2 separate regions of the Homo sapiens genome follow, and region 2 is linked to region 1. The links come from fine-mapping of genetic effects on gene expression. A gene starts in region 1. The other region holds a variant in brackets. All regions are shown on one strand. Distances are between the middles of the regions.

Evidence for each region. PIP is the estimated chance that this variant, and not a neighbour inherited with it, causes the effect.
Region 2: its variant is fine-mapped to the expression of ADPRHL1 in prefrontal cortex (CommonMind, PIP 0.95).

What each region holds. Positions count from the first base shown.
Region 1 is chr13:113,445,282-113,457,398 of GRCh38, forward strand. ADPRHL1 (ADP-ribosylhydrolase like 1) reads right to left here and starts at 8,207. Exons shown (of 8, transcript NM_001394807.1): 1 at 7,943-8,207. The coding sequence starts at 8,156. DCUN1D2 (defective in cullin neddylation 1 domain containing 2) reads right to left here. Exons shown (of 7, transcript NM_001014283.2): 7 at 10,538-12,117. RefSeq lists enhancers at 609-1,550, 3,878-4,237, 6,239-6,740, 10,737-11,667 and a silencer at 810-909.
Region 2 is chr13:113,392,412-113,409,286 of GRCh38, forward strand. It overlaps ADPRHL1 (ADP-ribosylhydrolase like 1), which reads right to left. Exons shown (of 8, transcript NM_001394807.1): 8 at 7,200-15,809. The coding sequence ends at 10,967. Among named protein-coding and RNA genes, the nearest start is that of GRTP1, 37 kb to the left of the region's middle. RefSeq lists enhancers at 1,052-1,593, 12,969-13,763, 14,881-15,566 and silencers at 1,511-1,860, 1,871-1,980, 5,623-5,917. The variant T/C (reference allele first, on the strand shown) is at 8,024.

The sequences.
Region 1 (12,117 bases):
AGGTTATGTGTCTTGGCCAAAGCCAGAGCTGACAAAGGTGTTTGCCTGCAAAGCCCGAGCATTTCTGTGATTAAGTAACCCGCAGTGTGTGGATGGAGTCCACACAGCCTCTAAAATCAGAGCCCTGGTGCCTGGCCATGCCAGGACAGGCTGTGGCAGGCGGATGCCCACCAGGTGGGGCCGGCGAGGGCGCCCCTCCCAACGGCCACTTTAACACCCAGCAACTTGTTTTCATTTTGTACTAAAACTGCACTCTGGGCTTGCGGGTCAGCCCCGGGAGACGCCACTGCTCCCTTTTCCTTGGTGATGAATTCCCCACCTTTGGGGAGGGGAGGGGTGGGAATGAATGGGGAGAGGGAGGCGAAGATGGAGGCTTGGCCCACCCTCCATGGGGCAGAAATGGCACTTGGAAGCAAAAGACCTTCCTGCTGGTGGCTGGGGCCTTTTTCAGCCGCATCAGAGCCAGATGTCCTAGCATGGATGGGTTGGTGAGATTAGGAAGGGCACTTGGCAAAGTCACTCCTCCTCCAGGACATGAAACCTCTGTAGCTGCAAACCCCTGGCGAGAGCATACAGGGCCCCCATGGCTGCAAACCCCTGGAGAGAGCACGCGCGTGTAGGGACCATGGCTGCAAACCCCTGGAGAGAGCACGCACGTGTAGGGACCATGGCTGCAAACCCCTGGAGAGAGTGCACAGGATCCTGAGGCTGCACACCCCCCAGAGAGAGTGCTTGGGGCCCAGCGGCTGCAAACCCCACAGAGAGAGCGTGCAGGGCCCGGCGGCTGCAAACCTCCTCACCTCCTACCACAGAGAGAGTACGCAGGGCCCCACAGCTGCAGGCCCCCCCTCCCCCCTCCCCCCCAGAGAGCACGCAGGGCCCGCAGCTGCAAACCCTCCAGAGAAAACAAGCAGGGCCCCTTGGCTGTGAACCCCCTAGAGAGCGCTCAGGGCCCTGCAGCTGCAAACCCCCCAGAGAGAGTGCACAGGGCCCAGTGGCTGTGAACCTCCCAGAGAGAGCACTCAGGGCCCCATGGCTGTGAACCCCCCAGAGAGAGAGGGCTCCCGTGGCTGCAAACCCCCGGAGAAGTGCTCAGGACAAGGACTGTATGTTGTGTCCTCCTACCACCAGTTCCCTGACCCGGCCCAGCAGAGGCCTCTGAAGAGAGGGGCAGTCCTGGGAGGCGTGGCCGGCTGGCCTGTGCACAGTGTTGTCTACATGCACGGTGTTGTCATATGGGCACGGCGTTGTCTATACTCACAGCATTGTCTACTCTCACGGTGTTGTCTACATGCACAGTGTTGTCTTATGTGCACAGTGTTATCCACATGCACAGTGTTGCCAACACACCTGGTGTCTACATGCGCAGTGTTGTATGTGCATGGTGTTGTCTACACACATGGTATTGTCTGTCCTGCATGTATGATATTGTCATAAATGCATAGCATTGCGCTGTGTAAACACAGGGTGTTTACATGCACCGTGTTGTCATACAGGCATGGCTTTGTCTATATGCACAGTATTGTCTACACGCACAGTGTTGTCTACATGCACGGTGTTGTGTGTGCATGGTGTCTACATGCACGGTGTGTGTGCATGGTGTCTACAGTCACGGTGTTGTGTGTGCATGGTGTCTACATGCAAGTTGTATGTGCATGGTGTCTACACTCACGGTGTTGTGTGTGCATGGTGTCTACATGCACGGTGTTGTGTGTGCATGGTGTCTACATGCACGGTGTTGTGTGTGTATGGTGTCTACATGCACGGTGTTGTGTGTGCATGGTGTCTACATGCATGGTGTGTGTGCATGGTGTCTACAGTCACGGTGTTGTGTGTGCATGGTGTCTACATGCAAGTTGTATGTGCATGGCGTCTACACTCACGGTGTTGTGTGTGCATGGCGTCTACACGCACGGTGTTGTGTGTGCATGGCGTCTACACGCACGGTGTTGTGTGTGCATGGCGTCTACACGCACGGTGTTGTGTGTGCATGGCGTCTACACGCACGGTGTTGTGTGTGCATGGCGTCTACACGCACGGTGTTGTGTGTGCATGGCGTCTACACTCACGGTGTTGTGTGTGTATGGCGTCTACATGCAAGGTGTTGTGTGTGCATGGCGTCTACATGCACGGTGTTGTGTGTGCATGGTGTCTACACTCATGGTGGTGTGTGTGTATGGTGTCTACATGCACGGTGTTGTGTGTGCATGGTGTCTACACTCATGGTGTTGTGTGTGCATGGTGTCTACACTCACGGTGTTTTGTGTGCATGGTGTCTACATGCACATTGTATGTGTATGGTGTCTACACACATGTTGTCTGCACACATGGTGTTGTGTGCATGCACAGTATTGTTTTACATGACGCCATGTTCATCACCCCAGTTCTGAGTCAGGGAGGAGAGAGAATGTGGCAAGACTGTGGTTTGGGAGACACGAGTCCTGCAGTCTCATAGGAGAGGTGTGAGGGCTGCATTCCTGCAGGAATTAAGGTCACCTTCGCCTGCACCCGAAACCCCTGGATGGGGGTACAGCTGCGTGGCTTTGTCCAGGCTGTGTCTAAACCCAGTGTGTGCCCCTCACAGTCACCGGCACAGTGGATCCACAAACAGCCTTTCTCAACTCAGTCCTGGGTTAACAAGCCTAGCCCTTCCTGAGTCCCCTAAAAGGATTCATTTTATTCTGGAATTAGACATGAAATGTCTGTATTCAACTGAAATTTAGCCTTTTCAAAGCAAACAGAAGCCATAAAACAAAATGGCACAAACAGCATTGTCTTTTCAGGTTAGAATTTAAGCGAGAAACAGATTTTCAAAGCTGCTACCCTTGGGCTTCTCCCCGGGTCTCTTTCCTTTGGGACACTCCACTCCTGTCTCCTGTCTTCCCTGTCTGGTCTCCTGAAAGACAAATCAGTTTCTAAAGCTGCCTGAGGGGCCGGGTGCAGTGGCTCACACCTGTAATCCCAGCACTTTGGGAGGCTGGGATGGGCAGATCATAAGGTCAGGAGTTCGAGACCAGCCTGGGCAACATAGTGAAACCCCCGTCTCTACTAAAAATACAAAGTTAGCCCAGCCTCTCAGGAGGCTGAGGCAGGAGAATCGCTTGAACTCAGGAGGTGGAGGTTGCAGTGAGCCGAGATCGCGCCACTGTACTCCAGCCCGGGCAAAAGAGTGAGACTATGTCCCAAAAAAAAAAAAAAAAAAAAAAAAAATGGTGCCTGAGTCTCCCAACCCATGTCTCAATAAAGAAAAGGCAAAATACTAACATCCAGTGATCTTGTAGCAAAATGTCAACTGTTTCCAAACGTTTTCTGCCATGAGCTGAAGTGCCACTCCCAGTTATCAGGGCCCCGGGAGAGGCTGAGAAGGTGCTGGCCCTGTGCCCTGGAGGCTGTGGCCAGGTGACACCTCCCGCCATCCTGCTGGGCCCTGAAGTTGGCTGAGTGAGCCTCAGGGCAGAGACATGTCAGATGTGCCTTCGGCCACACGGGCCTGCACCAACTTCCCACACTGGCCTAAGTGCTTCCTCACACTTTGCTGGTTGCTCCGTTTAATCCTCTGTGACCTTGTGAGGGAGGAAGGCCCTGGGAGGGAAGCCACTTCCCCAGTTTTCCCAGGGAGTGGGGGTAGGGAGCTGGGAATGGCCAGCTGCATACCCGAGCAATGGCCGAGCTCTCTGTGCGAGGCCGCCCCTCCCCAGGCCTGGCACACACACACACCTGCTAAACGCTTGCCAAGTGACTTGGTGATAATGCGCTGGCAACATGGGCTTGTCGTTTCAGGGCCATGGATGCCACCTCTCCTATGTGTCTTGTAGAGCGCTAGACACGGCTACTTCCTGGTTCAGAGTCTGCTCTCGTGCCCTGTTCAGAGAGGCTCACCCGGAAGGAGGCAGCCCCAGTCAGAGAGGCTCACCCGGAAGGAGGCAGCCCCAGTCAGAGAGGCTCACCCGGAAGGAGGCAGCCCCAGTCAGAGAGGCTCACCGGGAAGGAGGGACCCTGTTCAGAGAGACACACCCGGAAGGAGTGAGCCCCGGTCAGAGAGGCTCACCCGGAAGGAGGGAGCCCTGTTCAGAGAGACACACCCGGAAGGAGGGACCCTGTTCAGAGAGGCTCACCCGGAAGGAGGCAGCCCTGTTCAGAGAGACACACCTGGAAGGAGTGAGCCCCGTTCAGAGAGACACACCCGGAAGGAGGCAGCCCGGTTCAGAGAGGCTCACCCAGAAGGAGACAGCCCTGTTCAGAGGCTCACCCGGAAGGAGGGAGCCCCGTTCAGAGAGACACACCCGGAAGGAGGCAGCCCGGTTCAGAGAGGCTCACCCGGAAGGAGGGAGCCACACAGGCTGCCCCGACCCTCAGACCTGTGCTCACTCTAGCAGCAGAGCCAGGGTTTGCCAGACCACACAGCCCCGTGGCTCGTGGGGTGAAGGACTTTTCAGTGCAGCTTACTTAAAGCTGCCAAACGTAGTTCCATTTGTAAAAGTCTGCCTGTCTTTGGAAAGCATGCTGAAGAGCCCCTGCACACTGCAATTGTTAGGATACCTGCAGGCCACCGTGATCTCAGCAGTCAGGGAGGATGCTTACGAGCACAGGGGCCAGATTCTCTGGTTCCCGTCCAAGCTCTGCCACTCGCTGGGCTGTGTGGCACTGGGCAAGCGCCTGAACCTCTCTGTATGTCAATTTTTTCTCCTGTAAGATTGTGATAAAATCAGCCTCCACGGTGATGTGAGGAGCATGTGTGGAGGATAACATGCGTGAAGCAGCTGGAACAATGCCTGGTACAGAAGTGCTGTGGAGTCAGCACTCACCATTGTCGTTTTGTAGAGATGGAGTCTTGCTATGTTTCCTAGGCTGATCTAGAACTCCTGGGCTCAGGCAATCTGCCCACCGTGGCCTCCCACAATGCTGGGATTGCAGACGTGAGCCACTGTGCCCAGCCCTCACCATTGTTAACACAGCTTAAAGACCCCCTTCCATAGGCTACAATTTGTTATTTAAAGAACAAAGATAAACTTAAGTGAAATTTCGACTTTGATTTTTAGTGAGTTGAAAAAAATCTGCTTGCTTTGGTTTCTAGAGGGGTAAGCTGTAGGGACCAGCCCCACAGGGTCGGTGGGTCTCTCCCTGTGTGCAGTGACGAGAGAGTGTAGAAATAAAGACACAAGACAAGAGATAAGAGAAAAGGCAGCTGGGCCCGGGGGACCACTACTACCAATGCACGGAGACCGGTAGTGGCCCCGAATGTCTGGCTGCACTGTTATTTATTGGATACAAGGCAGAAGGGGCAGGGTAAAGAATGCGAGTCACCTCCAATGGTAGGTAAGGTCATGTGGGTCACGTGTCCACTGGACAGGGGGCCCTTCCCTGCCTGGCAGCCGAGGCAGAGAGGGAGAGGAGACAGAGAGAAAGACAGCTTATGCCATTATTTCTGCATATCAGGGACTATTAGTACTGATAGTACTAATTTTTCACTAATTTACTACTGCTATCTAGAAGGCAGAGCCAGGTGTACAGGATGGAACATGAAGGCAGACTAGGAGTGTGACCACTGAAGCACAGCATCACAGGGAGACGGTTAGGCCTCCGGATAACTGCGGGCGAGCCTGACTCATGTCAGGCCCTCCACAAGAGGTGGAAGAGCAGTCTTCTCTAAACTCCCCTGGGGAAAGGGAGACCCCCCCCCCCTTCCTGGTCTGCTAAGTAGCAGGTGTTGTTCCTTGCCACCTTTTGCTACTGCTGGACCACGATCCGCCTGGTAACGGGCGTCTTCCCAGACGCTGGCGTCACAGCTAGACCAAGGAGCCATCTGGTGGCCCTGTCCGGGCATAACAGAAGGCTCGCACTCTTGTCTTCTGGTCACACCTCACTATGTCCCCTCAGCTCCTATCTCTGTATGGCCTGGTTTTTCCTAGGCTATGATTATAGAGCGAGGATTATCATAATATTGGAATAAAAAGTAATTGCTACAAACTAATGATTAATGATATTCATATATAATCATATCTAAGATCTATATCTGGTATAACTATTCTTGTTTTATTATACTGGAACAGCTCGTGTCCTCTGTCTCTTGCCTCAGTGCCTGGGTGGCTTGCCGCCCACAGTAAGCAATTCCAGGGGTGATCTTGGATGCGTATTTTCTCATGACCCACAAACTAGACGCTGCAGCAGCACAGTGAACCCTCCCTTCCAGTCCACAGCTGAGGACCCTGAGAGCTTAGAGCAAACTTACTTCCTCCTTAAGAATAGCGCCCCATGGTGGCTCACGCCTGTCATCCCAGCACTTTGGGAAGCTGAGGTGGGTGGATCACTTGAGGTCAGGAGTTCGAGACCAGCCTGGACAACGTGGTGAAACCCCGTCTCTACTAAAAATACAAAAATCAGCCGGGCGTGGTGGTGGGCACCTGTAGCCCCAGCTACTCAGGAGGCTGAGGCAGGAGAATCACTTGAACCTGGGAGGTGGAGGTTGCAGTGAGCTGAGATCACGCCACTGCACTCCAGCCTGGGCGATGGAGAAAGACTCCGTCTCAAAAAACAAACAAAAAACAGTGCCCTAAACGTCCGTAACCCTTTTAACTGTGTGAATTTCGTGTCCTGTTGGGCCGATCTCCGTCGGTGCACTTTTGGAGTGTCCTGTGCCGCTGCCCTCCCTGCGGGCCTGGCAGGACCAGACCCACAGCCATGGACGCTGCCATTTACAAAACGCCCACCAAGTGCTACCAGAAATGGGACATGCAGAGCTGGTATGAGCGCACACACGGCATCAGACGCCCAGAGGAAGCCAAACTCAAGAGTGAGCTCCAGCCGTCTACGGTGAAAACAAGCCGGAGCTGTGTCCCACAGGTGTCTGTGTGTGGGGTGCACCTGTTCTGGGCTGCGGGGCACAAGCATGGGGTTGCTGGTCCTAAGGGCACACGAGTGGCCGCCTGGAAAACCAGAAGCAGGAGCTCCTGGACGCCAAGGCTGTGAACAGTCGGACGCCTCCCCGTCTCCAGCAAGCCGGGAGCCTTATCTTATCGCCGGCGCTTCAGCTCTCCCGTTATTTAGGGACCGGCCACAGGCTCGATGGCATTCCTCTGCTGTGAGCACAGAACTAAACTGGGCACGTCCATGGCAGATGAACAGAATGGTGGAGTGAACGCATAAGTGAGATTTCATTGACTTAGCTGCAGCCCTCAGATTTTAATTCTGCCATGATAAACAGCACCCACGGGGTTTTGAAGAGCAAATGCCTCGTAGGAAAGCTGGACTGCATGTCTGTGCACCTGCCATTTCCCTGAAATTCATGCAAAAGCTTGATCCTAAAATCAATTTGCTACTTAAAGGTATTTTAAGAAGCTTTGTCTCCAATCTCGTCCAATCAAGTTTATGTCATTTTCTTAGAACACATTTGTGTATGGGCAACTCTCCAAGCTGAACCATTTTGGGAGATGATATTCTAACTTTAATTCATTGGAATTTAGAACTAATCCCCAAACAGTATTAATGGGTTCACATTTCAAACTGGCTTATTTTACATCCCTTTGTAATGAATTCAGAACAAGAAGGCTTAATCTCTGCAGCGAGAAGTGAGCCCTCACCCTACTCCCACCAGCACGGCCGAGAGAGGCTTCACTGGCTTTAACTCTATTAGAAACAGAAGGTGCTAGGCCTAGTTAACGCTTTACAAATACAAGTGAAAAGTCACGTTTAAAAACTGAATCTTAATAACTGCAAAGTAAAGTAATACTGTCACCCTCAGAGAAACCACAGGAGAAACGTGATCTGCCGCATATCAAATTTGAGGGACACTCAGATTAAATTGCCACTTTTAGCAGCGGTATCAGGTAACACCATCCGCTGAAGGACCGCACTGCCTTCAAAGCTCTCGGAGGCTTACTGGGAGAACTCGAGCAGCCAGTGTTCCCTCCAGCCCGCACACCGGAGCGCGGTGGGCCCAGCCTACCTGTGGTGAGGGCCTCGGCGGTTGCGATGTGCATGATGGTGTTGTCACTCACGGGCCATTCTCCTGGCGAGAGTACGAGGTGGTCCAGGCCCCCGGAACGTTGCAGCTCCTCCTGGATCTTCATGCCTACAGTGCTGTTCTCCTTGCAGACATTTCTGTAGCCAAGAGCATCGCCGACGCTCCCCAGCAACATCGCAGCCTTAAATTTCTCCATCCCAGGAGGCAGCTCCTCTTCCCCAACAGCTGCGGAGCGTCCTGGCCTTTGTCTCCTCCTCAGCCCGCCTGACTTTTATAGTGGTCACTGTGTCACTGTCAGGAGCGTCCTCTGATGGCCAGGCGCTCCTTGTCTATCTCTGCAGGTGGCACCAATGAGAGGACCTTTCTGTCCCCCACGTGGGAGGTGTCAGTTTTCTTCTGCGTCTGGACAGGCACCAGCTCCTCAGCAGAGGAGCCTGCTAGCTTCTGCCGGCAGCCGCAGCACATTCAGAGCGTTGACAGAGCAGGGGCTCCTCTCGCTGTCCCTGGAAGGAGTGCGCACACTTCCCCGTGTGTGGCGTGGGGTGATGCGGGAGCAGATGTGTGCAGGCGTGCCTGTCACTGCCGCCCGCTGCGGGGCGTGCCCTCACCCCTCGGGCAACAACCCATCTGCTGTCTCTACAGTTCTGCCTTTCCTGGACATTTCAAATACAATGTGTGGCCTTCGGTGTCTGGCTTCCTTCACTCAACATAATGTTGAGATTAATCTGTGACATGCGGTTTTATCATTTAGAAAACTTTTCGATTATGAAATGTGTTTTTGATAGAAAACTTTTAAAAAATGCAGTGTAGAGGGAACAAAGTCTATCTAGCTCCTGTGTGAACAATGACGGTGTCTTCTCAGCATGCGGTGTTTAACGGCTCCCAAATAATTGGACTGCACTGAGGGGGAAAGTCGTCAGCAAACCGCAGGCTTCACTAGAACCTCCCATCCGGCCCTCGGTCAGCTCAGTGTATTTACATCATCCCTGCTAGCTCATGAAAAGAATATTAAAAAATATGGAGACGGGGGGTGAGGCAGAATGCACACAGCCAGGGTTCCTGGTTTGAAATAAATTAGGAAAACAGTCCATCTCCCGACCCCACCCCAGGACAGTTCTCCGCAGAGGCCGGGAGCCCAGCAGGGCTGTGTCTCTCCCGTCTCCTTCCTCGGGGCCTGGTTTCCATCAGACCCAGGGGAAGCAAAGAGTTACACCTGGACTGAAGAAATGCGTCTGATAAAAACTCTCGTAGTGTACAGCGAGACAGTAGGAAGCATTTAACCGCCTGGCGTTATATCAGCACTTGTTAAAACGGAGGATCTCAAGCAGTGAGTTCACCTCACCCTCCACTGTCTGCTGGTGGAGGCAGCCATCAGCACAGTCATGCCAGCTAGCATGATCCTGAGATTCAGAAACAAACTTCAAAACCAGCATGCAGGCCGGGCGCGGTGGCTCATGGCTGTAATCCCAGCACTTTGGGAGGCCGAGGCGGGCGGATCCCCTGAGCTCAGGATTTTGAGGCCAGCCTGACCAATATGATGAAACCCCGTCTCTACTAAAAATACAAAAATTAGCCGGGCATGGTGGTGGGCACCTGTAATCCCAGCTACTTGGGAGGCTGAGATAGGAGGATCACTTGAACCTAGGAGGCAGAGGTTGCAGTGAGCCGAGATCACGCCATTGCACTCCAGCCTGGGCAACAAGAGCAAAACTCTGTCTCAGAAACAAACAAACAAACAAACAAAACTCCAAAACAAAAAACAGCATGCACGCAGGGTCCCTATCCAAACAAGACAGACAGGAGGGGCGGCCCTTCGTTCAAACTCTCACCTGTTTTAGGCACAACTGCACTGTGGGGCCGAAGCGTGTGCTGCTGAGGGGATTAACACAGCCCGCTCGCTGAGCGCTTCAGTTCGCAGGCGGCGGAAACCTTTGCCAAGAGCACTAGCTGGCTCCCTCAGCAAACAGGACGGGATAAGGTTAGCTCGTTTATCCAACAAATATTTGCAGAGCCCCTACTTTGTACCTGAAACTGTGGACACAGCAACAAGGATCAGAAGAAAGTTTATTCTTGGCCCCAAGAAGCCTGAGGTCTAAAATGGATATAAACTTCAAGCGAAAATAACACAATGACATGTACAATGTCACTGAGAGGAGCTGGCGTTGTTGATTCCGGAACGCTGGCAGGTGCACCGTGAATCGGCAGGTAGCACATGATCCTCAGACCCCCGTGCTTGGCCGTTTGCCTCCGATAAGGGACGGTTTCCAGCAGTTTGTGCTGGCACACATGACCTCCTGCCCCGACACACTCCCGTAAATCCTGCCTATTGTGAGATCTCTCATTCCTCACATGAGCCACCCCATCAGGTGCACGGTGCACCGCTGAGAGGCAACGCAATGACAGAAGGTACCTGAGGACCTGGTTACCTGGCCAGGGCTGGCGGGCCACACACGGGGGCAGGGGCTTGCCCGCTGGTTGCTAGCTGGGGGCTGTTCTCTCATCCTGGGACAATGACGTGGATGCTGACACCTATAGGCAGACATCCCTGCAGCTGAGGAGAATCGAAAGGAAACCACGCCCGAGAAAAACCAATTTAATGCTTCTGTTCTCAGCATTTCACAGCATGCAGGACTCAAATGGATACAACAGAAGAAAAAAACCCACAATTTTTGGAAAAGCCTTTGTCCAATGATTAATATTTTGATATCTATTGACAATCCCTTAGAACTTTAAATCTCAAAAACAAAAAAGTACTGTGGATCTCCATAGTTTATACAGAATTATGTGAATTCTATAAACTTTTCTGAACAAAACAATTACATGTCAAGAATCCATGAAGCCTGGAAGATACGCTCACGTTTTTGAGGTTTGTATTAATGCCAGTTTTTATTGTATTAGACAAATGCTCTCTGAGAATCGAAGACTTCTAAAGGTAGACAGGCCCAGTTTCCCATTAGAGTTCTGGAAGCAGAGCCTGGGGAAGGTCTGTCACTTGCCCATCACTGGACCAGCCAGAAGCCAGCGGGGGCCAGGCGGGGTCTGCAGGCTGCAGGTCCCTTCCAGTCCTGTCCCTGCTGCCCTCTGTGACCATCTCTGCTAAGAAACATCGACAGTTCGTCCTGCAGCCTCCAAGCACACTAACCTCAGCCATCAGATGTTCCTGAAGCCCAGGGTAAGTCCTGTTCTCAGAAGCCAACCCAGCTGCTTGTCTGGGCCATGCTCTCTCACACCGCAGCTAGGTCATCTGCGGCGACTCTCCTCTGTGCTGGGCAGCAGCTCCAGCTGGTCCACGTCCTGCACAGTGCTGCAGGGGGGCAGCAAGGCACGCCTGTGACATGAGAGTCTCGGCACGTGAGGTAGGGTCAACAGTGATGTCCACAACTCAATACCAGCCCTCCACACCTCGGCAGCACTCGTGGGTCCTCCTCAACCAGGCGGACACGAGAAACAGATGATAACATGGTGCAAGGACAGACTTCAGCTCACCAATCAGATGAAGGTTTTGGGGTTGGGTTTTTTCAGACAACGATGTACATTTTAGCTTCCAAATGTGCACAGGGGCACAAAGGTCTGGATGCTGGGCACTACGGGTACCACAAGAGGATGGAAAGAACCAGCTCATTCGGTTTTATTGTATGTATGTATGTATTTATTTTGAGACAGAATCTCACTCTGTCGTCCAGGCTGGAGTGCAGTGGCGCGATCTCGACTCACTGTAACCTCCGTCTCCTGAGTTCAAGCGAATCTCCTGCCTCAGCCTCCTGAGTAGCTGGGATTACAGGCATGTGCCACCATGCCCGGCTAATTTTTGTATTTTTAGTAGAGACAGGGTTTCACCATGTTGGCCAGGCTGGTCTCAAACTCCTGACCTCAGGTGATCCACCTGCCTCGGCCTCCCAAAATGCTGGGATTACAGGTGTGAGCCACCACGCCCGGCCTTGATTTTAAAATCTATAATTCATCACTCATAAAATAAATGTTTTTCATGGAAAAATGTCTTTTTAAATGTAATTAAAATATATTTTAAAAAAACATACTTTATGAAGCTTCTCAGGCAGGTCAAATAATATTTAAGTAAGAGAGGCCCAGTGATATATAAACGGTGTGAGATAAACTCTGCTGGAATCGTGCCACGTGTGCCGTTGCTATGCAAAGCT
Region 2 (16,875 bases), 50 kb before region 1:
CAATCTTGGCTCACTGCAGCCTCAACCTCCTGGGCGCAACTCATCCTCCTGCCTTAGCCTCCCAAAATGCTGGGATTACAGGCATGAGCCTCCGTGCCTGGCAGTGGGATCCTCTTTACCTGAACTGCCCAGGGACCTCCATAAGTATCCCTGGCTGGGGGCCGTGGGTCACGCCTGTAATCTCAGCACTTTGGGAGGCTAAGGTAGGAGGATTGCTTGAGCCCAGGAGTTCAAGACCAGCCTGGACAACATAGCAAGACCCTGTCTCTACAAAAAAATACAAAAATTAGTGCATACCTGTGATCCCAGCTACTCAGGAGGCTGAGGCGGGAGAATTGCTTGAGCCCAGGAGGTTGAGGCTGCAGTGAGCCATGATTGCACCACTGCACTCCAGTCTGGGCGATAAAGTGAAACCCCGACTCTTAAAAAAAACGGGCTGGGCACGGTGGCTCACGCCTGCAATCCCAGAACTTTGGGACGCTGAGGCCGGCGGATCACCTGAGGTCAGGAGTTCGAGACCAGCCTGACCAACATGGAGAAAACTCCATCTCTGCTGAAAAAAAAAAATTAGCCAGGTGTGGTGGCACATGCCTATAATCCCAGCTACTCGGGAGGCTGAGGCAGGAGAATCGCTTGAACCTGGGAGGTGGAGGTTGCAGTGAGCCGAGATCGCGCCATTGCGCTCCAGCCTGGGCAATAAGAGTGAAGCTTGGTCTCAAAAAAAAAAAAAAGTATCCCTGGCACCTTCTCACAGACAGAACAGGGAAAAGGAGGGGCGGTTTACATCCCTGTGGAGCACAGCAAACCCACACAATGAGCCTTTCAGGTGTGGGGGGCAGGAGCAGGGCGGGGGCTGTCTCCCAGGGACCATCAGTCGGTTGGCTCAGGGGCTCAGGAGCCCAGGCCCGATGCCAGGAAGCTTCTCACCCCTAAGGAGAGGACACGCAGTCAGTCCGACTGGCAAAGTGGCCGGATCAGCGCCTGGCTGTGCCACCCCACATGGAGTGCCACACGCGGTCACAACAGCCCCATGACGTAGGTCCCAGTATTACTATTTTAGGGAAGACTGTGGTACACGCACCCGGACACACAGTTGCACATATGGCCACACAGGCCTCCACCTCTACTACCCAGACAAGTGCCCCAGTGCGCATCACACATGCACATGGGTGTGTACACAGCCTGCCCAGACACAGCCCTCCACAACACAGGGACCCACCCATGCACACACGCGTGTGCACACACACCAAGCAGACACGGCCCCTACACAACACAGGGACCCACCCATGCACACACGCGTGTGCACACACACCAAGCAGACACAGCCCTCCACAACACAGGGACCCACACATGTACACACTAAGGAAATGTGGAAACACTACGTGACCTCCGGTGGCAAGGCCATGGCTGGAAGCCCTGCAGCCTCTCCGGCTTCCAGGTCCTGATGCCAAGGCTGCCCCTCCCAGAATCCACGAGGAGGTCACCGTCCCCGCTCCGCACCAGGGAGGGGCTCCAGAAGCCCGGAGGCCAGCGCCGAGGTCCCCGCACGTACGCCTGTGTCCCCGGCTCTGGGGAAGGCAACCGTCCCTTAGGGGGCCGGGAACCTGCGCGCCGCCCCGACTCCCGCCCACCCCGGCGGCTCCCGGCGGCTCCCGGCGGCGTCCGGATGTGGCAGCAGCTCGCGGGCCGGGGCTTCCTCTTGCAGCAGCCGCCGCCCGGGAGGCCGGCAGCGCCCCCTGGCGGACTCAGGCAGGAGGCGTCCGGCGAGGCGGGCGCGGGGTAGGCGGGCGCGGGACGGTGCAGCCCGAGGCCTGTCCCTGCAGGTGCAGGAGGGACCCGTCGCTCCCCTGCGCACCGAGGGGGCGACAACCCCTCCCAGAGACCTGCTGCCCGCGGAGCCTCCCCCAGTGACTCGTGCGGTCCCCAAAGGAGAGGCGGGAAGCCGAGTCCTGGAGAAGCCTGGAGACAATGGGCAACAGGGGCATTGGGCCTCCGTCCAGCCCCCGCCAGCGCCCCAGGGTCACACATAGGCCTTTATTTTCTGATCCTGAAAGTGATGCAAGTGCATTTAAATTAACGCAGAAAGCAGTGACAGATAACGACGGGAAAACACACCTACACATCGGGTGTTCGTGGATAACCACTGCTCACCTTTTTTCGCGTTTCTCTTTCTTTGCCCCCTTCACACGTATTTACATATTTGAATCTACTATTTTATACTGGATTTTTTTTTTCTTTTTGAGGTGTAGCTTCACTCTTGTTGCCCAGGCTGGAGTGCAATGGCGCCATCTCGGCTCACTGTAACCTCTGCCTCCTGGGTTCAAGCGATTCTCCTGCCTCAGCCTCCTGAGTAGCTGGGATTACAGGCGTCCGCCGCCACCATGTCCAGCTAATTTCTGTATTTTTAGTAGAGATGGGGTTTCCCCATGTTGGCCGGGCTGATCTCGAACTCCTGACCTCAGGTGATCCACCCTCCTTGGCCTCCCAAAGTGCTGGGATTACAGGCATGAGCCACTGCGCCCGGCCTTATATTGGATTTTAAACATTAAATGGTACAATATTTTCCATTTCACAAAGTTCTTCCTCAGCTAATTTTAAATGACTGCTATTTCACTGAATAAGACACCACACTTTATTTAACTAATCTCTTTTTTTTTTTTGAGAGGGAGTCTTGCAATGTTGCCCAGGCTGGAGTGCAATGGTGTGATCTCGTCTCACCGCAACCTCCGCCTCCTGGGTTCAAGCGATTCTCCTGCCTCAGCCTCCCTAGTAGCTGGGATTACAGGTGCCCGCCACCACGCCCAGCTAATTTTTTGTATTTTTAGTAGACACGGGGTTTCACTGTGTTGGCCAGGCTGGTCTTGAACTCCTGACTTCGTGATCCGCCCGCCTCGGCCTCCCAAAGTGCTGGGATTACAGGCGTGAGCCACCGCGCCTGGCCAACTAATCTCTTAATTGGTGGACATTTGTGTCACTTATGGCTGTATCTTGAGTAGTACCACGCTGGACAGATTGCTTTTCCTAAATACAGTTTCTCAAAGCTGGAATTGCTGGGCTGAGGAGCCACCCCTTCTAAAGGTTCTTGACATTATTGCCAAATTGCTTTATAAAAAGGAAGGGCCAATGTTTGGTCCCATCAGGAATGACTGTCTCCGTACATCCTCAGAGGTAGTGAGTGTTACCGATTCCTTTTAAAAATTGGGGGTTTTGGTTCTCAACTTGATAGACCCATGAGAGTTCAACTTCATGTCTTTGACCACCACGCACGCAGTATGTGGTCCGATACGGCACGTCCACCGTGGATGTTGATGGGGACAGCCCCGTGTGCTCCAGTATGTGGTCCGATACAGCACGTCTGCTGTGGGTTTTGATGGGGGCGCCCCTGTGTGTTCTTTTTTTTTTTTTTTTTTTTTTTTTGAGACGGAGTCTTGCTCTGTCGTCCAGGCTGGAGTGCAGTGGCACAATCTCGGCTCACTGCAAGCTCCGCCTACCAGGTTCACGCCATTCTCCTGCCTCAGCCTCCCGAGTAGCCGGAACCACAGGCACCCACCACCACGCCCGGCTAATTTTTTTGTATTTTTAGTAGAGACGGGGTTTCACCGTGTTAGCCAGGATGGTCTCTATCTCCTGACCTCGTGATCCGCCTTTCTTGGCCTCCCAAAGTGCTGGGATAACAGGCGTGAGCCACCGCGCCCGGCCCCCTGTGTTTTCTTGAGTGCAGGGGGCAGAATCCATCCTGGGGAATTTGAGCAGAAAGGGACATGGTGAGCAGTGTGACAGCTCCCAGCTCCTTGCAGGACTAGAGGAAAGGCCTCCAAGCCCAGCTCTGCACTGGCTAATGAGCTTCCTTCTCTCAGCTTCCCTGGAAACATCTTTCTCTGCACACCCAGGAGACTCCATATCACCGGCTCGTCCTCACCGTGGGCCCAGAACCTGCTGTGCCCTGCCGGCCTGGGGAGGTTGCGTCTCCCTGGCAGAGCTGCATGCGTCCCAGCAGCAAGGAAGGCTGGGGATGTGGGATGTGGGACTGCCGTGCAGAGAGAAGACAGGATTCATGTTGTGGGGAGCTGTCAAAACGTAGAAAAATAGCCCCACTTTTGGGGCTCCCATGAAAGACTGGGGTCTTATTCATATGTTTGAGCCCCTTTGGAATTTGAAATGAAGCCGAGTTCCCTTCCTAACGACACAGAGCTCGCAGAAGCCGCCTCTTCTCTTGGGCGTCCACCGTCAGCTCTTTCTGGACTTTGTTCTTCCTGTATGTGTGCGGCTTCCTGCCGTTATCAAAGTCCAAGAATTTCATCAGTTTCTTATTTTGTTTTATTTTTTAACATTTTATTCATTTTTTTTTAAGATACAAGATCTTGCTATGTTTCTAGGCTGGCCTCAAACTCCGAGGCTTACGTGATCCCCCCACCTCAGCCTCCTGAGTAGCTGGGACCACAGGTGCTGCCACCGCACCCGGCTTCTTGATTATTTTATCATCATCATTATTGATTGAGCAATGGAAATCTGTAACTTATTTGGTGCTTTTTTTGGGTTCTTATTTCTTCAAGATTTGGAAAATTCTTCCCTACGTGCAGATTTGCTGGTGGGTTGAGCGCCTTCTTCCAGTTGGGGATTAAGACATGACTTCCAGTGGTACAGGCCGTAAGGAAACAGCCATCCAGAGAATTCAACAGCTCTTTCTCCGCTCTTCAATACAACATGACCTGTGGTCTTTTGTTCTTTTATTTTTTATTTTACTTTCATTTTTAAATAGAGACGGGGTCTCACTATGTTGCCCAGGCTGGTCTGGAACTCCTGGTCTCAAGTGGTGAGAAACAAACTCATCTGTCCAAACCCAGAAGAAGGACTCGGAGACCCGGAGGAGAGTGAAAGGGAGACTTTCTTTCTTTCTTTTTTTTTTTTGAGACAGAGTCTCGCTCTGTCACCCGGCTGGAGTGCAGTGGCGTAATCTCGGCTCACTGCAACCTCTGCTTCCCGGGTCCAAGCAGTTCTCCTGCCTCAGCCTCCTGAGTAGCTGGGATTACAGGTGCACACCACCACACTCAGTTAATTTTTTTATTTTTAGTAGAGACGGGGTTTCACCATGTTGGTCAGGCTGGTCTTGAACTCCTGACCTTGTGATCTGCCTGCCTCAGCCTCCCAAAGTGCTGGGATTACAGGCATGAGCCACTGCACCTGGCTGAAAGTGAGACTGTTGATGATGGTCTTGCAAGATCGGGTGTCTGATGGGCAGCCACAGCCAGCACAGTTTCAACAAATAATTTATCCCCTAGTGCACAGGTGTCTCCCCGGGTTCCTCACAGGCTGAGTACTCTGGGGTCACAGTCTTCTGGGACGTCACCTATTGGTTGTTGGGCAGGGGCTGTAGGTGTTTTTTTTAGGGGTGTCCTGTTGCATTTTGTTGCAGCCCACAATGCATTGCAATCCCAGTCAGCCCAGGGGCTCTTCAAGTATTTGACTTATGACCTAAGTAGCTGGGCAGGCTGATAAGAACAGACAAAGCCAGCTATTTTGCAGGCTAGTAAACTGTTATCTTAGACTAAACTTCTTTAGTTCAGGTGAGAGCACCTAAGGGCCGGGGGGAAGGGAGGGAGAAGGGGAGGCCGGCAAGCAGGCACTGGCGATCCAGGCAGGGGCCTCGGACCTCCTGTTTCTTCTGTAGTTTGCTGACTTAAGCCGATTCAAGGCACTTTGTCTTGGAAACGGACCACTGTAGACACTGTTGCCTTCACTCCCCGCTTGGCCTCCTTTGTTCTTCTAGGAGAAGATGCCTCGGCACTTTCACGAGTTTGGGGTGTGCACAGATGGGGCTTCTAGTAGGCTCCTGTGCCTTCGAGTGGCTTCCCAGACACCGCCTGGGGTTGTGGACCTGAGCCAGGCCAGTCCTCTCGCTGTCAGAGAAACGGCGTGCACTGCTCAGCTGCTCAGTCCTGGGCTTTGGGGGCTACGTGACATCCATTCCTGTCAAAAATCCATGGCGGCCATAAAGATTCAGCAAATGCACCGACGCTCAAACAGACAAATGTCCCGGCACTTCCTTTTGTGGTTGGGGCTTTTTCTTCTGTTCAGGGAAACATTTGTCTACCCCAAGCTTATAACAATATCCCAAGAATGGGGTTTGATCAGACTTCTATGTACACCAGTCTCACAGACGCCCTCAATAAGTGCTTTTAAAAGTTCTAGCCGGTCGCAGAGGCTCACGCCTGTAATCCCAGCACTTTGGGAGGCCGAGGCAGGCGGATCACGAGGTCAGGAGATCGAGACCATCCTGGATAACGTGGTGAAACCCTGTCTCTACTAAAAATACAAAAAATTAGCCGGGCGTCTTGGCGGGCGCCTGTAGTCCCAGCTACTGAGGAGGCTGAGGCAGGACAGTGGCGTGAACCCGGGAGGCAGAGCTTGCAGTGAGCCGAGATCACGCCACTGCACTCCAGCCTGGGTGGCAGAGCGAGACTCCGTCTCAAAATAAATAAATGAAATAAAATAAAATAAAAGTTCTAATGAAAGCCTGTGTCATAGCTTAATTGACAGGGGTTTTCTTTCAGGACAAGAGGTGCCTGCACCATCCCAAAGCCTCGGCTGCCGGGCCAGTGCTCTCAGACACGAGGCATCAGCTCGTTTCAGTGGAACAAGCTTTCCTCCTCACAAGATGCCAAGAACCCGCGCCACCCACGGGCACAGCAGGGGTTTGGAATGCAGGCATTCCCAGCTAGGTCTGGCGTGAGCTTAAACCACCCGTTGTTAAATCCTCATGAAAAGTCACTTACAAAGTTCTCCTGCATACAGAGTAGTGGAGGGCAGAGGGTGTCTCACAGGCCTGCTGGGCCCGTTGCACCCATACTCCTTCCCTCCCTTCTGTCCAGTCTCCCTCCGTGTCCCAGAGGACACCCCAGCCCTTTGGCCCCCCGCGGCCCAGGTGCAGTGGCCGAAGTCCAGCTCCCTGGGTCTTGCTCCGAGGCCGGCACAGTCTTGACTGGACCAAGAGAGGGTCTGGGGAGTGCATGGCCTTGTCTCTCTAAGCACATCCTAAGGAGTTCTCCTCCCACTTGGGGCCTTGCCCCAGACCCTCCCTCCTGCCCAGGATCACTGCTCCAGGCTGGCCACATTCACCCGATGGGGGCTCTGCCCCTCGCCCCAGGCCTGAGTCCTACTTCATTTATGCGGCTGCTTCAACAATGCAAGGAAGAGATTTGTAATGGGAAAGGTATTTTATTTCTTTTTGAAATTATTTCCAGCTGAATGATGTTAGTAAAAATACAGAGAGAATACAACAAATGACATTTAGTAATTTTTTCTGACTAACCCATTTTAGGGTTGTTTATATACAAAGAAGAATATGAACAAGAACAAATTTAATAAATAGCTGTAGCCTAATACACAACCGAAAGACCGTAACTCCAACAGCAGAGATACCCTGAGAACAGAATAAGGAGGTGGTGCTGAGCGTGTAAAATCCCAGACAACGACCCTCCCTGAGCGAGTGTCCTGAACATGACCACATTCTCGTCGCCGTCTCGGGACCTTCCTGCCGCCTGAGTGCACCGCCTCCCGCCCGGCTGTTGTCACTTGCACCCACAGACCTGCGGCTCACAGTGGGCCTGTCGACAGCCGGAGGCACCGTAAAAAACTGCAGGGAGGAGGCAGTCAACGAGTCGCTCAACTACACAAAATTAATGATGTTAACTAAGAAGCTAAAATAAATATCCTGTTTTCTTTTCTTTTCTTTTCTTCTTTTTTTTTTTTTTTTTGACGGAGTCTCGCTCTGTCACCCAGGCTGGAGTGCAGTGGCGCAATCTCGGCTCACTGCAAGCTCCACCTCCCGGGTTCACGCCATTCTCCTGTCTCAGGCTCCCGAGTAGCTGGGACTACAGGCACCCACCACCACGCCCGGCTAATTTTTGTATTTTTAGTAGAGACAGGGTTTCACTGTGTTAGCCAGGATGGTCTTGATCTCCTGACCTCGTGATCTGTCTGCCTCGGCCTCCCAAAGTGCTGGGATTACAGGCATGAGCCACCG[T/C]GCCCGGCCACTTTCTTTCTTTCTTTTTTTTTTTTTTTAAAAAAACAAAACAACTTTGGGTTTTATTTAAAATGCCCGTGGAGGTGGTTAGCGCCCCATTCTTCTGCTGTAGTTATTTCACCCCGGGAGGGTGTGGGCCTTAGCCATGTGGCCGTGATGGTCGTATCTGAAGTGTGAATACTTCCCCGCGCTATCTTCTAACCTGCGCTGTCTCAGCTTAGTGTGAACGTACGGACCGTTCTCAAATCCTGGTGAAGTCACTGGCAGTTTTTTCCTGCACACAGAGTAGCTGTGCTGTTTTTGAGCTGAGGGCAGTGTCATGCTGGGCTGCATCTGGCACATGGAGAGGACGGGCCAGTCGAGCAGGTGGCCTCCTGGCCGCTCACAGACTCTGCGCCCGCCAGACTGTGAGAGGGGTTCAGGCACGACACTTCCGGAGCTGTCATCTGGAGGAGATTCTCATCATTTTTTCCACCACTTAAAATAAAACCACTCAATGCCTTCTCCAGTGTACTCTCTGGTCTATTTAAAAATAGCAGCGCAAGTCCCACCACTTCTTATTTATAAAGGGAACAGCCAGTGAACATATTTTTACCTCCCGTGTCTGTCATCATGTTCTTGCCACTCATTGCCTCCAATTCCAAATAGGTAAAGAGTGAGGGCCGTGCCGCTGTGCCTGGAGTGGCAGGGGCAGCCACACAGACCTGGGGGTCCCTGAGCTCCCCCAGCTCCAGGGAGGACGCCCCAGGCATGAGCAGGGGCCGCCAACAGGACAAAGAGGCCACTCTGTCAGCCTCTGCTGGACCCCTGAGCTCCCCTCTCATGGGCCTCTCCGTTTGGGTGGCTCCGAGAGGCCAACTCCAGCCCCAACTGCAGGCTCCCAGGACTGCAGGGGCAGGGACTCTGGAGGTCCGTGTGCTTCGTGAGAGAGGGGACCCTGTCCTCCTAGCAGGGGTCCAGCGGCACCACAGCAAGACTTCTGTGGCCAAGTACACGCCATGCTCAGCTCTGCCCCCACCCGCACCCCCGGACCATCCTGTGTGCAGCTGGGCTGCCCCGGGACCCACACGCGCGAGGGGCACCCGGTGCTCAGGAGCCTCCACACACAGCAGCTCGCACTTAGAACCCACACGCCAAGCAGAAACCCCTCGAAGCGGGCTGGGAGCACGGACCCCTGATTTATAGAGGAGGCCCCGGGGGCCCTGTCGGGGGAGCTGTGGGGACCGGCCCCCCAGAGCTCAGCACAGCCCGGCCCTCCTTCCAGACACCAGCACTCGCATGTCCCAGCAGGTGAGGGTGGGTCAAACCTGCTGGATCTGAAGTTAATTGTTCGACTGGAAGGAAACCTGTGCGCTCCCCGGAGCATGACGCCACGCCGCCTCCTTGGCGCTGCAGAGCCAAAGCCACTGGCGTCTGCCGGGATGGACCTTCCCTGGAAGGAGAGACCTCAGCCCCGCGTGGGTAGGACGCGCCTGCTGAACGCCCTCTCAGGGCCGACACTGGAAAACACCTTCCTCTAAAGGAACATCCGAGTCAGAAAACAGGTGCTCGCAGCAGGCACCAAAGCGCCTTTGCGAACGCTTAGGGCTGTTTCAGGAAACCGCTCAGTAGCAAAGGCAGAAGATGCCAAGACACCTTCAAAAAGCAGGAATTAACTTTCCACAGGGAGGGCACCACCAAAAACAAGGGTGCGGGGCTGTAGGGCGACAGGCTGCATCGGTTCACGCTGAAAATCCAGCTGCTCCGGGGCCACTCAGGCAGCCGTGTGGCCTCACGGGTCCGGGTTTCAGAGGCCACCGAGTGGCCTGGGACGATGGATCGCGACACGGAGGTGCATGGCTCCATCATGGGGAAGAATGTGCTTTAAAATAGGTGCATGGAGGAAGAGCCTAAAAAATAGTCCAGAGTAGCAACAAAAACCATCTCGAGGCAATGTGACCACAGGTGGCTTTGATTTCCTTCTTGTGCCTCTAGACAGCATTCAAATATTCCAGCCTGAACATGCATTACCTCAGTACCTGAACAGGGCCGGAGTCGTGGGCCGTCTCGGGCCAGGGCAGGAAACACTTCTATGCTGTTCGGGAGGACGGAGGACAGACAGCGAGGCTCTCAGGTCACCGGCACCAGTGGCACCACCCACAGGGACTGCAGGGAAGGGCGGGCAGGCTCCCGTTCGTTCTCCCAGCACCCAGTTTCCAGACGAAGCCTCCCTGGGATCCTGGCTTCCCACGGCTCTGCACTGTCCCTTTCTCAGAACTTAACGTGGGCATTTCCTGAGGCCTCTTCCTCCGGATGAGCTGGTTTCGGCCTGGGATCCCAGCGTCCCCACACCCTCTGGTGACCACCACATGGCCCAGCAGCCACACAGCACCCGGCACCCACCTGGGCGTCTGAGGCTGGAGGAAGCTCTGCCCTTTCTTTCGAGTCATGGGGGTGGGGCGGTGTGCATCACTTTGGGCCCATGGATGGTGGGTGCCATGCGGCCACGTCAGAGCAGGGCATGGTGGGGTGTGGGCAGGGAGCAGTGGGAGGTGGCCCTGTGAGAGCTGGGGAGGTGTCCCAAAGTGCCAGCATCCTGCAGATCGAAGGGGACGCACACACCGTGCCACTGCGGGAGGTGTGAGCTCCACGCTGCAGGCTGTGTGAGAGAGGGGTGAGCCGGCGCCCCCGAGTGAAGACACAAAGAATCCCGAGGGCCTGGTGAGGCCACAGGCCCGCACCTCCCACCCCCATGGCCTCGTGGCTCTGTGGGGTGACAGGAACCCGACCCACATGTAGCTCAATCCTCCCAAGGTCAGCTTGTGAAGAAGGGAAAGAAAATTATGGAAACAGGCGTCTCTGTAGGGGATGCTCCAAGACGCATTTGGAGGCAGGAAAATGCCTGAAGTCCCTCAATGGGCGGATGTCACAGTGCTGGGCGAGCCACGGTGTGTACTCGGGGCCTCACTTTGGGAGCTCAGACGTGTCGCTGGCCCTGACGCTCATTGGTCTGAAGGACAAATCGAAGGCCCTCTGGTCACGGAAGCTCTGGGCTTTGTACTTGGCCAGGTGCCTGGACCTCCCGCGACGCTCGGGCTCCGATGCCTCCATCCTGTCCTGCAGGGCCCTCTCAGCCCCAGGGTGGTCTGGGGACCCCTCCTGGGCCGGGGCCTGGGGAGTCCCGCAGCCCCCAGCCTCAGGCTTGGGCTCAGTTGGGCTCTTTCCCAGCCCCAGGGGAGAGGTGGCAATGCTCTTGCCCCTGAGGGGGCGGCTTCCTGGGGGTGGGTACCCGGCGCTGGGCTCCCCCAGGCCACTGCCCCCTGACTGTCCACCATCCCTGGGGGCTGGGCTTCTGGACCCCCCACTCCTGCCAGCAGCATCCACTCCCTCAGCTATGCCACTAATGGGCTGCTCCCAGGCCCGAGGCGCCATCCCACTTGTCAAGGCCTGTTCCCGACCCTGTTCCCAAGCCCGTTCCTGAGCCCCTTTCTGGGTCTGCCTCTGAGTCTCTATCTGGGTCTGCTCCCAGCCCTGATCCCGAGCCCGATCCCGAGCCCATTCCTGAGCCCCTTTCTGGGCCTGACCCTGAGCCTCTATGTGGGTCTGCTCCCGACCCTGTTCCTGAGCCCGTTCCTGAGCCCCTTTCTGGGCCTGTTCCCGAGCCCGTTCCTGAGCCCCTTTCTGGGCCTGTTCCCGAGCCCGTTCCTGAGCCCCTTTCTGGGCCTGTTCCCGAGCCCGCTCCTGAGCCCCTTTCTGGGCCTGTTCCCGAGCCCGTTCCTGAGCCCCTTTCTGGGCCTGTTCCCGAGCCCGTTCCTGAGCCCCTTTCTGGGCCTGTTCCCGAGCCCGTTCCTGAGCCCCCTTCTGGGCCTGACCCTGAGCCTCTATCTGGGTCTGCTCCTGAGCCTGTTCCTGGGCCCGTTCCTGAGCCCCTTTCTGGGCCTGACCCTGAACCCGTTCCTGAGCCCCTTTCTGGGTCTGTTCCTGAGCCCATTTCTGGGCCTTTATCTGGGTCTGCCACTGGGCCTGTCCCTGAGCCTCTTCCTGGGCCCATTTCTGAACCTCTCCTTGAACCTGTTTCTGGGCCTGTCCCTGAATCTGCCCCTGAGCCCATTTCTGGGCCTGTCCCTGAACCTGTCCCTGGGCCCCACCCTGAGCTGGTTCCTGTGCCTGCCCCTGGGCCTCTATCTGGGTCTGCCACTGGGCCTGTTCTTGAGCGTGTCCCTGAGCCTGTCCCTGGGCCCAATTCTGAAACTGTTTCTGGGCCTGTCCCTGACTGTGTCCCTGGGTCCCACCCTGAGCCTGTTCCTGTGCCTGCCCCTGGGCCTCTATCTGGGTCTGCCACTGGGCCTGTTCTTGAGCGTGTCCCTGAACCTGTCCCCGGTCCCATTCCTGAACCTGTTTCTGGGCCTGTCCTTGGGCTGCCGGGCTTCCCGGCCCCTCGGGCTCCCCTGGAGGCACAGCTGGGTTCCTGGCAGCCCTGGTGCCCTCTCCCCACGCCGTGCTCCGCCCCCGCTCCTCCCAGGGTCCCTGCAGATGCTGCTGACCTTGGTCACTGCGCTGGCAGGCGCCCCCAACCCCAATGGCCATCCCTTTGTCCCCGGCCAGATCCTGTGCCCACCATGTCTGAGGCTCTTTTGCTGGGTTCAGCACAACCTTCGAGCCCGACGGCGCCACCCTCTTCCCCGCATCCCCGGGCTGGGGGGTCTCCTCCTGTGCCTGGTGACTCTGTTGCCTCCCCAGGTCCGCCTGTGTCAGGGGACGCTCCTGGGATTCACCTGCCTGCGTCCTAGGCTCGGGGACACTGGCCCGGAGCTTTGCCTGTGTGTCACCAGCAGTAGGGGGCAGGTGTGCCTGTAGATGGGGAGGGCCCCGCTGGTGGGTGCCACCTACCCACCCCATGTCCACCTCCGCGGGAGGCACTGCGGGAAGCAGATGGTCAGGCTCCGCCCCACGGGGAAACCTGACGCCCTCCCTGCCCTTTGCCTGTGGGTTCTCAGGAGGCGACGGCGGGAGGCCAGGGCCATAGCTGGGGGACTCTGCCACGCTCCTTGCCTGTGGCCTAGGATGATCAGAAGCAGGAATTCCAGACTCTGTGCTGAAACCCAAAAGGTTTCCTTCCACAGCCACATCCTTTCTGCCTCCTACAGCTGCTGTATGTCTGCTGGCTGCTGATGTGTTTGAAATGTATAATCGGGCCGCCTCTGGGTGCCGGGCGAGGGCCGCAGCATCCTCCGGGTGGCGGGCGAGGGTCGCAATGTCCTCTGGGTGCTGGACGAGGGCCACGCCTCTCAGGAGGCTCCTCCCTGCTGCTCCACTCTTGGGCTCCAAGGATCCCCCAGGGGCCAGGAGGCCGTGGCTGTGAGGGTCTCGAGGGAGAGCCTCTCCTCTGGGGTGGCTTTCGGACAAGGCTCTGCTTCCCCACTGGCCCAGCGTCTCTGGCTCTCCCGCTGTGCGGTCTCCAGGGCTCTGGGTGCTGCCTGGCGCTGGTGCAGGCGTGGCGCGGCTCGCAACGCTCCCTGCAGCTGCCATCGCCCCACAGGCTTTCATACCTGGTTTGGGTGGTTCATTTAATGAGGACAGTGGGTTCTCGCGAACATCATGGCTGGTGATTTCCTCGGCAGCCTTCAGGGGCTGAGAAGACTCTATTAGCAGCGGCCTTCTGCATTCCTCCAGCGCACCGGGCACTGTCATGCCCATCGGGGTGACACCCTCAGGCCCCGTACGCCCCTTGGATGATGCCGCCAGTGACGTGGGGGCTCCTGTTGGGTTTCTCCCAGTCGGGGACGGCACTTGCTGGCTGCTGGAGGCATGGCTGGTGTTTCCCCTCAGAAGGTTTTGTGAGGCTGCAGGATCATTTGTTGCGGAGCCCTTCTTCTGCATTGATATTTCATTAGATTCCGGCAACGGATGCTTCACATCTCTGAGCTCAGAGGTCCTCTCTCCTGAAATATCGTCAGGATTCCTGGGACCGTGTGAATTCTCAAAGCTGCCTTTGTTTTCCTTCCCGCCAGCAGGATCTGTCTGGAGTCTCTGTGTCAGAAGTGTCTCTGGGACACTGTGGTCGGCGCCCACAGCCCCTCTTGCTGCTGCCAGACGCGGAGCTGCCCGTGGCCCCTGCGGCGAAGAGGCGCTGAGTCCCGCCTGCATCCCTGAAAGCTTGCTCAGTTCCACTGGGGCTCGGTGACCCCTTCTGTTCTCAGTCACGGTGGGAAATTCTGTGTGGGCATTTTCAACCACATTCTCTCCTCCACAAATACAAGGTTTGTTTTCACCACTTGACATATTTTGCAGCCTGGTGGGAGGGGCTGGCATTTCATGGACAACTGGAATTTGGACAGTTATCCGTGGAGGCTCCGTGGCAGGCTGTGTTCTCCGAGCAGCCTGGACCGATGGAGCGTTCAGGGGTGGGATGTGCTCCGGCACCTTCTGTTCTGGGAAATACTTCTGGGTGGCAAAGAGGGGGTCTCTCCCTGGGTCTGGGAAGCCTGCTCCTTCCCTTTCATCCTCTGAACTGCAAACAGTCATGGTGATTTCAGGGCCCTCCCCTGCACACTCGCCTGGGGGCCCAGGAGGCCACGTGAGCCTGGCTCCCCTCACCTCCTGGACGCCTCCTGCGGTGCTCTCTGCGGTGGGGTCTGCAGTCCCATCACCTCCGGCTGATCCGGTGCCCCAAGGGCTGGCCGGTCCCAGTGGGGATGATGCAGGCACAAGGCCAGGAAGGACTCCACCTGTGCAGGGAGCACAAGAGAAGGCCAGCGAGGGGACAGCGTGGCCGTCCCTCTGAGCCATCACCTGGGGTGTCACGGGCTTCGAGGGCCTTGGCTGTCTTTGGGGCTCCTCCTCCAGGGGCCCCTTTCCCACTGCTTTGTTCCCACTGGGCCCCGTCTCCCTGGCACTAGGGGGCACGCTGGCTTCTCCTCTGGGTGGACGCCTTGCCTCCGAGTGGCTGATTTTGGTGCAGTGGGACAGCCAGCTCCTGGGGCCACAGACGACGGTGGCGATGCTGAGGGCCGGCAGGGGCTCAGCCGTGCAGGCCAGAAAGCGGGCAGGGGGCATCTTGACGCAGGTGCTGGCCATGGTGGCCGTGTGCAGCACGCGCACCTCCGGCCGGTGCATCCTCTTCCTCTGCAGGTTCCTCTTCTTCCGCTCCTGCGTGTGCAGCCTCAGCGCACTGGCCTCGGAGCACAGGCAGCTGTTCTGCTCGAACTTCTCCCGCAGCTTGGACAGCACCGAGCTCTTGCCCATGATCTTCGGCAAGAGGCCCCTGGCGGCTTTGGGCCGCTCCACAGGGGGCTTCTCGCGTGCTTCTTTCTCCTTCGCCTCCTTCTCCTCGGCGGCCAAGAATATCTTCAGGATGTTTTTCACGGTGCTCTTCCCGGCCGGGTGGCCCCAGCGGGGCTTCTCGCTGAGGCAGGGCTTTGGGGCCGGCTCCTTGGTCTTCTCCAGGAGCTTGTTGATGGTGGCACCCACGAGGCCCCCACCCGGCCCCTGCTTGTCCTTGGAGATCAGCCGGCCCACCTCCCTGGTCCTCTTGAGGTAGCGCTCCCGGCCAGTGCCCAGGAACTTGGCCTGCAGGAGCTGGAAGCGCGTGGGCCGCTGGGTGGCCTCCTGGGTCTGGGGCTGGTGGCTGGGCCTGCTCCCCCCGGCCTCTGTCCCCGGGGGCCGGTCTGCGCGGCCCGTGACGTAGAGCAGCAGGCTGCTGAGGATGGAGTGGGCGGCCGGGTCACAGGCCAGCTTGCCCATCTTCTTCTTCAGGGTTTGGGCGTCCACAGACATGACGTCACTGCAGGTCTTGCTGCTCTTCCGGCTGCAGAGAAAAAGGAATCATCACCTACTTCATCATCATTTTTCTCCAAGATGACTCTATAGAACATTTATCATGGGGCAATCCCACCTTTTCAGGGGCCCCAAAAGTCTGGTAGGGAGAAAAAGAGATTAGGAGCCAGGAGCTGTGGCTTCTGGGCTGTCTCTGCTGTTAATTCGGGGTTGGCAGGGATGCCAAAGCTTTTCTGGGTCACTGTTTCCTGTTAAATGGCAGGAACTTCTGACACACGCTCCTCCTAAGGGCATTGAGGAGTTGACATTGAACAGTTTAGTGAAAGCGTTTGGAAAACCACTTTGCATATGCAACATATTAAAAGAAAATTTTAACAAACATACTTTGCTTGTACAGTAGGTAAAAAAGCACATATAAAGAAGTGTCTATTCTCTGTGTGGACTGTGTATGTCTCTACCTTTAAGTATGAAAGATAAAATTAACAGCATATTTAAATTCTGCCATGATCCCAGGGACCTGGGTCCCTACAGCAGAGACTGAAGATTCAGCAAACCGCTCAGGCTTGGGGTGGGCGGAGAAGGCAGAAAGAGTTTCCTCACAAGCTCCTGGGCAGGAACCAGCACTGCAGTGGGCAGTGCCCACCAGGAGCAGGGGAGGAGGGGGCTGCAGAGAGGAAGGGAGGAGGGGGCTGCAGAGAGGAGGGAAAGATGGGGCTACTGAAAGGAGGGGAGGAGCGGGTTGCAGAGAGGAGGGGAGGTTGCAGAGAGGGAGGAAAGAGGGGGCTGCAGAGAGGAGGGAGGAGGGCTGGGATCACTTGGCTGGGTCTCCGGAACCCCTTTCAAAATGGCTTAGAGGAGCCACTGAGGCTGGGGGCTGCCGCCCTTTCCCAGTGAGATGTTTTTCTGCAGGTTCACCAGGGATTCCTTCCCACCAGCCCAGCTTTCAAAGAGACGGGACCAAATGGGTCTTGGCTGGAGAGACAGGGTCTTTGTGATTTGATGGTGTTTTCTGAGCCTGGGTCCGGGGTAAGTTCTGCTCCTGAGCAGCCGTGACCACAGGAGCAAAGCTGGAAGGTCTCCCCATCTGTGGCAGGGGG